Homo sapiens: one gene and its partner. The protein of the gene in region 1 purifies or fractionates together with the protein of each later gene. This does not show direct contact. Each region holds a gene or a part of one and is shown in the gene's direction. Other genes may lie near its edges.

Region 1 (4,840 bases):
CGTACCATTGCACTCAAACCTGGGCAACAAGAGTGAAACTCCGTCTCAAAAAAAAACAAAACAAGCAGGCTGGAAAATGGGGAGGAGGACCTGATCAGAACTAAAGACCAGGGAGTGAGTCGTCTACACAAAAATAACAATAGGGAGGCTCAAGAGTCTATAATGTTTTTGTAGGGAAAAGTAAAATGAGAAAGAACATAGTGGAGGACTGAGCTTTGGGGAAGAGCCAAAGCTGGGCAAAGGGAACAGATGAACTTGTTAAAGGAGAAAAGCATGTAGACAAGGAATAAGAGATCTAGGATAGTATCACATGGGCCTCGAGAAGAGTTCTAGGAATGAGGCAGTGTAAATAGTGTAAAGCTGTAAAGAGGTCAAGGAGAATGAAGACTGAGCAAAAGTTGAACTTGGTAACAGCTGAACTTGGCAATTAGATCATTAGAGACCTTCAAGACCTTCAATAGGACAGAAATCATACTACTATTTGCATGCATTATTTTCCATCTCAAATGTTTTTTGTGTTTGAATAAAAGTCAAGAGAGATAATAGAAAAGTAGCTTTCTGTTGAGGTCTTTTCATCATAAAACTAGCAGTAACCTCAGTATTTAACACTTTTACCCTCGGAGATATGTGTAACCATTTTTCCCCAGTGGTGTGAGCCTTTGATATAGTCACTCCTTAGCAAGCACTACATGAAGCAACTTTTACTAAGCAATCAAAGATAGCTGATACTTATTTTTACTCTCAGTTTACCTCTCTGAAGGAGAATAAGCTAATAAAATATTATATGGGCTGATAAATTTCAGATTATTATATACAAGGCTGGGATACTCCCAGACGCAGGCTACTTCCTGGCAACTAATTTCCAGGTAAGGGATTGCATGACTCGTATCTCTCTCCACATTTTTTGCTCTTTTAGGTCTTGGCATGGTCACACCTATCAATGACCTTCCTGGTGCAGATACATCCTCATATGTGAAGGGAGAAAAACTTACTCGCTGTAAACTTGCCAGCCTGTACAGACTTGTAGACTTGTTTGGATGGGCACACCTGGCAAATACCTATATCTCAGTGAGTTCTTCAGCTTTCAATTCCTTTTTTAAAAAATTCCAGCTAGAAGGCAACTATACTCTTCTTACCTTTACCTGGAAGTCCAGTTTTCAGACTTATTCTCTAAACCTAGTATGCTAGATCACAACCAAATACTGATTTAAACCTTATACCCAAGGGAGAGGCTCCAATTCCCCCACCTTTCTTCTCCCCTTACTATCTATGTTGTTCCAAGTTCCTTTGGTTCAGACCAACTGTAGAATCTATCCAGGAAGAAATCCTTCTGGCAAAATTGTCCCTCTCCATGATAATTATGTCTGAGCATCAGTGGCTTTAAAAAGCATTTGAGGCAAGGAAGATAGAGGAGGTCAGGGAAGTTTCCTCCCTGGTCTTTATTTTTAAAATATATTCTTTCCATTCACCATCATATTTTTATTTTGCCACACTTGGAAAAAGATGCTATTTGGAAACAAAAGAGGATTAAAATATTGTACAATGGAAATGGTACAGATGCAGTCCATCAAGAATCTTTCTTCCTTTCCACCTTCCATCTTTATTTTAATTCCTTCCTAGGAAGAGATTTTGTTCTCTTTCCTTTGCCCATTTTGCCTTAACTTCCAAGTTATAAATTAAGGTTATAATTATTACCACATTGGCTTGAATAATATTAGCATTTATTTTTCATGAACATAGCTGACCCTAAATAACCTTAGAGCCCCAAAATAACACTTTTAGGTAAGTCCAGTAAATAAGAAACTAAAGTCAGAATTTTTTAGCAAGTACTTGAGGGAAACTTTAGGAAAGTTTCATGTTGTAGACCTTTAATTTTTGCTTTGTTGGTTTTTTTTTTCCTGATCTCTTACAATTATTCATTGTAAATATATTTGTAGTCATGTTTCCACTGCAAAATATGAACCACTTCATAGTAATTCCCTGTTGTTTTTTTTTCCAGGTAAGAATAAGTAAGGAGCAAGACCACATTATAATAATTCCCAGAGGCCTATCTTTTTCTGAAGCTACAGCCTCCAATTTGGTATAATTTTCCATTCCTGTGTTGCTTTTTCTGAGCTTTCTTTGGCTTTTCTGACAGTTCTTAGCTTTTAGCACAGGACAGAATAAGAAGGTATGGATGGAAAAACATTTACTAGTGAACAGTGAAGGGAATTTGAACTATGTTGTTTTAGGGAAAAGCTTTAGAGAATAGCGTAATTGAAGAGACTAATAAATGAGTTGGTCTTATCAGTTAACTTGTCTATGTTTTGAAGGGAATCGTGATTTTTTTTTTTTTACCACCCTATACACTCAGAAATTTGTGTAAAAAAATTGTGTAAAAAAAACACACACGGCCAGGTGCAGTGGCTCACGCCTGTAATCCAAGCACTTTGGGAGGCTGAGGCAAGTGGATCACGAGGTCAGGAGTTCAAGACCAGCCTGACCAACATGGTGAAACCCCATCTCTACTAAAGATAACAAAAAATTAGCTGGGCGTGGTGGCACACACCTGTAATCCCGGCTACTCGGGAGGCTGAGGCAGGAGAATCGCTTGAATCCATAAGGTAGAGGTTGCAGTGAGCCAAGATCGCACCATTGCACTCCAGCCTGGGCTACAGGGCGAGACTCTGTCTTCAATACACACACACACACACACACACACACACACACACACACACACACACACACACACAATGTTCATAGCTAGATTTAAACAAAGTTCAGCTGGTATGAGTATAGGATCTGACCTTAGTATTTTATCTTTTCCATGACTACTCCTAGCCACTGTCATCAGCTTACAGAGTGACAGGAGCTACCTTGGTTCTGGGTGCTTGCTGCAATGTTAGCAAATAGAAGTTTTCTAGCCAATTCTATACATGCCAGACTTGTTCAGACCTCCGATGAAGAGCTTAAGTTTCTCCTTTTCTTGGAAACTGTACTTCTTGCCAAGTACCAAGTTTTGTTGCACCTGTTTTATAAATAAAGTTTTATGGGAACAAAGCTATACCTGTTAACTTACAGATTGTTTATGGCTGCTTTTGTACTGCAGCTGCAGATTTGAGTAATTGCAGCAGAGGCCCACAAAGTCCAAAATATTTGCTATCTGACCTTTTACAAAAAGGTTTGCTACCCCCTGGTTTAGCTTGTGAAACACAAACTTTGATACGTATATACCAGTTAAATATGTCCTTCTGATTTTTTCCAGGTGAAAGTCAATATAATAGGAGAAGTGGTTGACCAGGGAAGTACCAATTTGAAAATTGACCATACAGGATTCAGTCCCCATGCTGCAATCTATTCAACACGTCCTGATGTTAAGTGTGTGATACACATCCATACCCTTGCAACAGCAGCTGTAAGTCAATGAAAGTCCAAAACTGACAGGACGCTGGAAGATGTATTATTTTTGTGGCTTTCTCAACAGGATGCTTTACTATCTGCTTTTCAAAATCATATTTGATACAATAATCTGCATACCCAGAAAGCAAAAGGCCTTTGGGACCAAATGCTACCATTCTAGGAAACAACTGGAGAAATAACATTTGGATTCTAAAACTAACCAGTTTGAAAATTGGGTCATTGAGTTTTTTGGAGCAAAGCTTCTTTCATAATATTTGACACAGCATATAAGTTGAGTTGTATTCCCTAAGTCCTTTTTGTGTGTGTGTGGAAGAAACAAAATGGGAAGTGAATAAAGTGGGAAGTGGGCTGCAATGGTGAAACACAGTGAATAGGCCAGTGTTTTCCTGAGCTGACCAAACAATCAGGTTCCTATGAAAATGTATTTAGTAACCAAATGTGTTATCTTGGTATGGGCCAAACCAAATAGGTATCCTCCATGAAATGTGGGATCCTTCCAATTTCTCAAGAGTCTCTTCTTCTGGGAGATGTTGCCTATTATGACTACCAAGGGTCACTTGAAGAACAGGAGGAGAGAATTCAACTGCAGAAGGTTCTGGGACCAAGTTGTAAGGTATGTAGTAGAGTTTGTCTAAGGAGCTATTTTTGTTGCTGCTGCTGTTGATGAAAACAGTGTGAGCTATGCCAGTTATTTCAAGTGATTGCTGTGGGCATTCTATTTTAGGTGCTGGTACTCAGGAATCATGGTGTGGTTGCACTTGGAGAAACATTAGAGGAGGCTTTTCATTATATTTTTAATGTGCAACTAGCCTGTGAGATTCAGGTAGGAAACATTATTCCCCTTTTTTAATTGCTTTGTTATTTGCTCGTTTAGTTGGATTTTGTGTACTTATTTGCAAATACATATTAGTTAGTGGCTTTTTGTCTTTTAAGAGAAGTTCTGCTCTACTTATGTAGGCAGGGTTTTCAACTCAGTTATCTCTTGAATTGAAAATAGGAGTAAAGGAAATTAAAATTTTCTCACACACAATCTAAGGGCCTCATAAACATCATTTTCCCTACAATCCTGCTTTTTAAGTTAGTACAATTGCATATTTCTGTTTTCACCCTGTAGTGGTGGTACTAATTAAGGAAGAAAAACAGCTGCAAATCAAGAATCAAATGTGTTGTGGTCACTTTTGTAAAAAGTTTGACTAGGTCCAGAAGTTATATGAAATTGCAGTTTTCAACAATTCCACAGCCTCATTATGATGAGAGGTTGGATATTTATTAATCATTTTTTTCATCAGAGATGTTGAATGTATTTAAAGGCCCTAATTTTCTTTTTCTTTTTCTTTTTTTTTTAATTATACTTTAAGTTTTAGGGTACATGTGCACATTGTGCAGGTTAGTTACATATGTATACATGTGCCATGCTGGTGCGCTGCACCCACCAACTCGT
Region 2 (4,840 bases), on another chromosome or scaffold:
TGGATAAAAGGGTAAATTTTTATATGTATTTTATAATTGAAAAAAGTAATATTTTATTGAATTTAGGAGAAAATAAATAATCTTTAGTCTTTCAAAAAATTTATTTTTTTTTAATTTTTTTTTGAGATGGAGTCTCCCTCTGTGGCCCAGGCTGGAGTGTAATGGCGCAATCTCGGCTCACTGCAACCTCCACCTCCCGGGTTCAAGTGATTCTCCCTCCTCAGCCTCCTGAGTAGCTGGGAATACAGGCGTGCACCACCATGCCTGGCTAATTTTTGTATTTTTAGTAGAGACGGGGTTTCACCTTGTTGGCCAGGCTAGCCTCAAACTCCAGGCCTCAGGTGATCCCCCCACCTTGGCCTCCCAAAGTGCTGACATTACAAGCGTGAGCCACTGTGACGTACAATTCAGTGACAGTACATTTACAGTGTTGTGTAACCACCACCTCTCTCTAATTCCAAAACAACTTCACCCCCCAAAAAAATCCCATACCCATGAAGCAGTTACTTCCCAGTCTCCCTTGTCCCCGGCCTCTGACAACTACCAGTCTTCCTTCTGTCTCAATGGATTTGTCTATTCTGGACATTTCATGTAAATGGACTCACAGAAGGACATCTGGCCTTTTGTCACGAGCTCCTTTCACCGAGCATAATGCTTCTGAGGTCCATCCATGCTGTAGCACATATGGGTGCTTCATTCCTTTTTATGAAAATATATATTTTATACTTGATCAAGTATTATATATTTTACAAGAGGAGGAAATAATCTGTCAGCTATGTGAAACGCTTAGCAGGCTGTATTATTATTATTTTTTTTAGAAAGAGTGTTGCTCTGTTACCCAGGCTGGAGTTTAGTGGAGCAATCTCGGCTCACTGCAAGCTCCGCCTCCTGGGTTCAAGCGATTCTCCTGCCTCCCCTTCCTGAGTAGCTGGGATCACAGGCGCCCACCACCACGCCCGGCTAATTTTTGTATTTTTAGTAGAGATGGGGTTTCACCATGCTGACCAGTCTGGTCTTGAACTCTTGACCTCCAGTAATCTGCCCACCTCGGCCTCCCAAAGTGTTGGGATTACAGGTGTGAGCCTCCATGCCCAGCCCCTTAGCAGGCTTTATATAGGCATTAAGAAACTCTGCTCATAATACTTAACACCTGTTAAATTAGTAGAATCACTCACATTGTAGACATTAACTTATGAAATAATTCATCACAAGATTCAAGTGCCCTGAGTTCCGCTTGCTGCATTTAAATGATGATTCTGTTGAGTCAGCTGATTTCAATTTGAGCAAGTTCATGTTACCGGGGGAAAGGCAATATTGTTTCTTCTGAGAACATCATGACCACTAGGTTCTTTAAGGCAATGAAAGACACAGGCTATTAATGTCTCTGATAGAGCCTTGACTCCAGCAACGTAATCACAGGATGGGGGACTGTTCTGTAACTGATGACTCTTGAGGCATGAAACCCAGAGAAGGGGAAGTGGGGCTGCTCTGAATGGAGACCGGAACCGCAGTTTCACCAAGGCTGGTCTCAGGCACATCTTCTGGAGCCTGGATGAATGTAGGGCCAGCTCCTTGGGCATGGTGATGCCTGGTACAGAGCCCCTCCTCCCTCCTCCTGGGAGAGCTGGGGAAGGGAATGCCCTGTGGAGCTTCCCTTCGGGCCTGTGGGCTCTGGGCTGTCAGGAGGGAGGCTAAGTGAAAGCTGAGCCTTGTCAGGAAAGGCCTGGAAGCAGCGAGGACGCAGGTGGTGCACAGCTGGGGTTCTCAAGGGGCAGGCGAGGTGGGCAGGGCACGCAGAAGCTGCTCTGCAGGGTCTAGGGCTTCTCCAGCGCCCTGGCCTTTCGGTGCACAGGACGACCTGAGATGGAGCATCACCCAGCTCTTCAGCCACAGGGCTGCAGATTCCTCTCCCAAGGCCTTGGCCTACACTGTGGCAGTCACTAGACCAGCACTGGCTCACGAGTGGGCAACAGGAAGTATGCAGTAGGCCCTGGGCTTTTCCGAGCCCTCATTCAGCAGGAAATCTGTCCCGTGGCTGTTCTCACAGGGCCAAACCTTCGCGTGCATGATAGGTGAGGGGCTCCTCCGACATCCTGTCACTTTGCTTCTGCACCCAGAGAAATGATCTACCAAAAATGAGCACCTGAATTTCAAAAAGAGACTTCCTTAGCATGGCAATATGGGGAATCATAGGGGTTTGGGTTCTAAAATTGGGCTAGTGTCCACGGGGCAGAAGCATGCAGTTTCTGAATTCAGCATCTCTCTGGACTCAGTGTCCTCAGCTGACTTTTTACTGTAGTGTCATCTGGAAGCTTCCTCAACCCTGGGTGGAAGTTTCTCCTGCACCAACTTCCTTGAGGGCCCACTTAGTCTCTGAAAGAAGCACTCTTGCCCCTGAGCATAGCCGGGCATGAAAGGCCCTGACAAGGCCTGCGTGAAGACTGCTTATGGCCGCGTCACCCATTGGGGCCCACAATTCCTGAGGCATGGAACTCCTTTTGTGTAACAGCAAGCAAGGCCCTGACACAAGGAAGTGTCCTTTCATTCAGATCAGGGAGTGACTGGCTTGGCCCCTGCAGTTTCTGTGTCCCGAGAGGACTTGAAACCTGCAGGTATGCTGAGCTCTGGCGGGGACTCAGAGCAGACCCAGTGCTGCAGCAGTCAAGCCTCCACCACCTGCATTCGCAGGTCTAGTTCTGCAACACGGAACACACACAAGTCGAGCAGAGCCACTTCATTACTCACAGTCAGGCAGCGAGGTCCCCCAGGCTCAGGGAAGCTGCAGGGAGGGTGGAGTATCGGCTGCAAGTATCCTGTGTCATGCGGCAGCTGGGGGGTCCCAGAAAGCATTCCTCTCTGAGTCTTATACCCTGGGAAACTGGGATCACTGGGCCAAAGGATATCCAGTTCTAGAGCCCAGGTTCTAGACAGTCCAGACAGTTCTTCCTTACATCAGGAAGTGGCTTTCTTGACACATTCTACAGTTATTCTGAGAAAAGGGGAAGAGCCAACTCAGCCAAGTCCATCCAGGGACCTGTGGATGCAGGGGACAGTGGAGGACTAGGGTGGCCAGGATAGAGACCTCCCCAGTGTGGCCAGGATAGAGACCTCTTGGGTGAGGCCAGCATAGAGACCTCTCAGGGTGGCCAGGTAGAGACCCATGGGACATCCTTGGCTGGCTGAGCATCTCCTAGTCTCCTAGCCTGAAGACAACAGGATGAAGAGGAGAATCAAGTTGTCTATTTTCAGTAAACCTGTAGTTTAGCAACTTTAGTAGCCTTTAGTAAAATACATAGCGTGGTTTCCAGCCCCACTGAAACCAATTATCCTTTATACCTGCTTGGAATTATTCTCTAGTTCATGTTTGTATATCCTGCCTGTGGAATTGTTTCTCTTTATTTATTCCTATTAACTTGTATTTACTTTGCCAACCCTAAATAATGAGATTCAGAAAATATAAATAAGTATTAGTATATCAAGTTTATCAGAACAAAAGCTTGACAGTGGCCACCCAGAAACACAGACTTCAAACAAATGGGGCCCAAAGTGGACTAGTGAAGTTTTCACCTATGTAGAAATTGTAGCAGGATCACAACCTTGCAAAGGAACAGTGACCTGGGGGGCCCTTATCTCCAATCCTGTTTGGTCTTAATTATTCACAGGGAAAAAAAAAGTAGAAGTTTCAGCTGTGAAACATGTCCTCTCAAGACTCAGAATTTAAAGTTCCAACAGCTTTGTTTGAATTATTCAATGTGACAACCTCAACTAATATTTCACCTAGATTGTTTCCCATGCATCTTTATATGGAGGAAATTAAGCAGCAGAAAGAAGCTCCAAATGCAGCAGCGATCCTGTACTTCAGAGAAAACCCAGGCAGACTCTTAGAGGGGCCTTTGTGAAGTGGCTGTGGTGGGACCCCAGGAGGAAGCACTCTCAATCTGCCCATCAACCCCAAGACTCCCAGCCATGCCCTCAGGGCCTGAGCTTTCTCAGGAATCGTATTTTATCACAGCTCATCTGAGGGGTCAGGCAGCTGTGCATTGCCTGCCTTTGCATTTGTATTGACAGTCACAGCTTTCCCGACGAGGGGTAAAGACTTCCTGTAGATATTGTTCAAGCCCAGACAAGGCCCAAGATGGCACAAGCATGTGGTAGGAAGGAAGTTTCTAAGGGGCTGAGATGGGAGACGGGAGAGGAAACGGCCCTGGCACGCACCCTCCGCCCCCTCACTCCCAAGGGCCGGCCCTGGGGCCATTCGTGTGTGCTCGGGCTACAGACACTGACGGTTTCCCATAAAAGTGTCACCAGTGACATATTTTGTTGGTTTGCTTTAATCCCTAGCTAGTGTCTGTATTGCATTTGTAAACTCTAAACTTTGGTATTGTCGCGAGTTGAAAGCTCAAGGGGTTCCTACCTAGTATTCTGTCCGTACATATCTAAGTAATGTGATAATCCTGATGACTGGTGCCCACACAGGGTCAGATGCCCACGTCTGAGTGATGCTACTCCCACCAGAGCAGTTGTTACTGTTGGAGAAATATAATTTTTAGAAAAACCCGAAATCTTTTCATTACCCAGAAAATCTCTCCATAAGGGTAGCAGAGGAAGAAGACAGATTTATTCTTGAACAAGCATCAAACCAGAATATGGCACGTGCCCCAGGCAATCCGCTGAGAGATTGCAAAGACAGGAAGGCCTCTCAGCCCTTCTGCAGCCCGGCAGGCCCGGCCCATTCCACACAGTTCTCAGCACAAACCATCACCAGTCCTTACCAATGAGAGGAGCTGATGGTGCCTTTGATCACAGTGTACATCCTCACTCTAGCATCATAACCGGGAGA

What was found. The genes of interacting proteins can lie anywhere in the genome.
Region 2: the proteins of ADD3 (region 1) and MLPH purify together in Homo sapiens (affinity purification with mass spectrometry; one large-scale study listed by BioGRID and IntAct). This does not show direct contact.

What each region holds. Positions count from the first base shown.
Region 1 is NC_000010.11:110,115,343-110,120,182, forward strand, and holds part of ADD3 (gamma-adducin), read left to right. Parts: intron 1-916; coding exon 917-1,068; intron 1,069-1,999; coding exon 2,000-2,080; intron 2,081-3,244; coding exon 3,245-3,394; intron 3,395-3,868; coding exon 3,869-4,012; intron 4,013-4,123; coding exon 4,124-4,222; intron 4,223-4,840. UniProt on the Homo sapiens protein: Membrane-cytoskeleton-associated protein that promotes the assembly of the spectrin-actin network. Plays a role in actin filament capping. Binds to calmodulin.
Region 2 is NC_000002.12:237,528,246-237,533,085, forward strand, and holds part of MLPH (melanophilin), read left to right. Parts: intron 1-4,840. UniProt on the Homo sapiens protein: Rab effector protein involved in melanosome transport. Serves as link between melanosome-bound RAB27A and the motor protein MYO5A.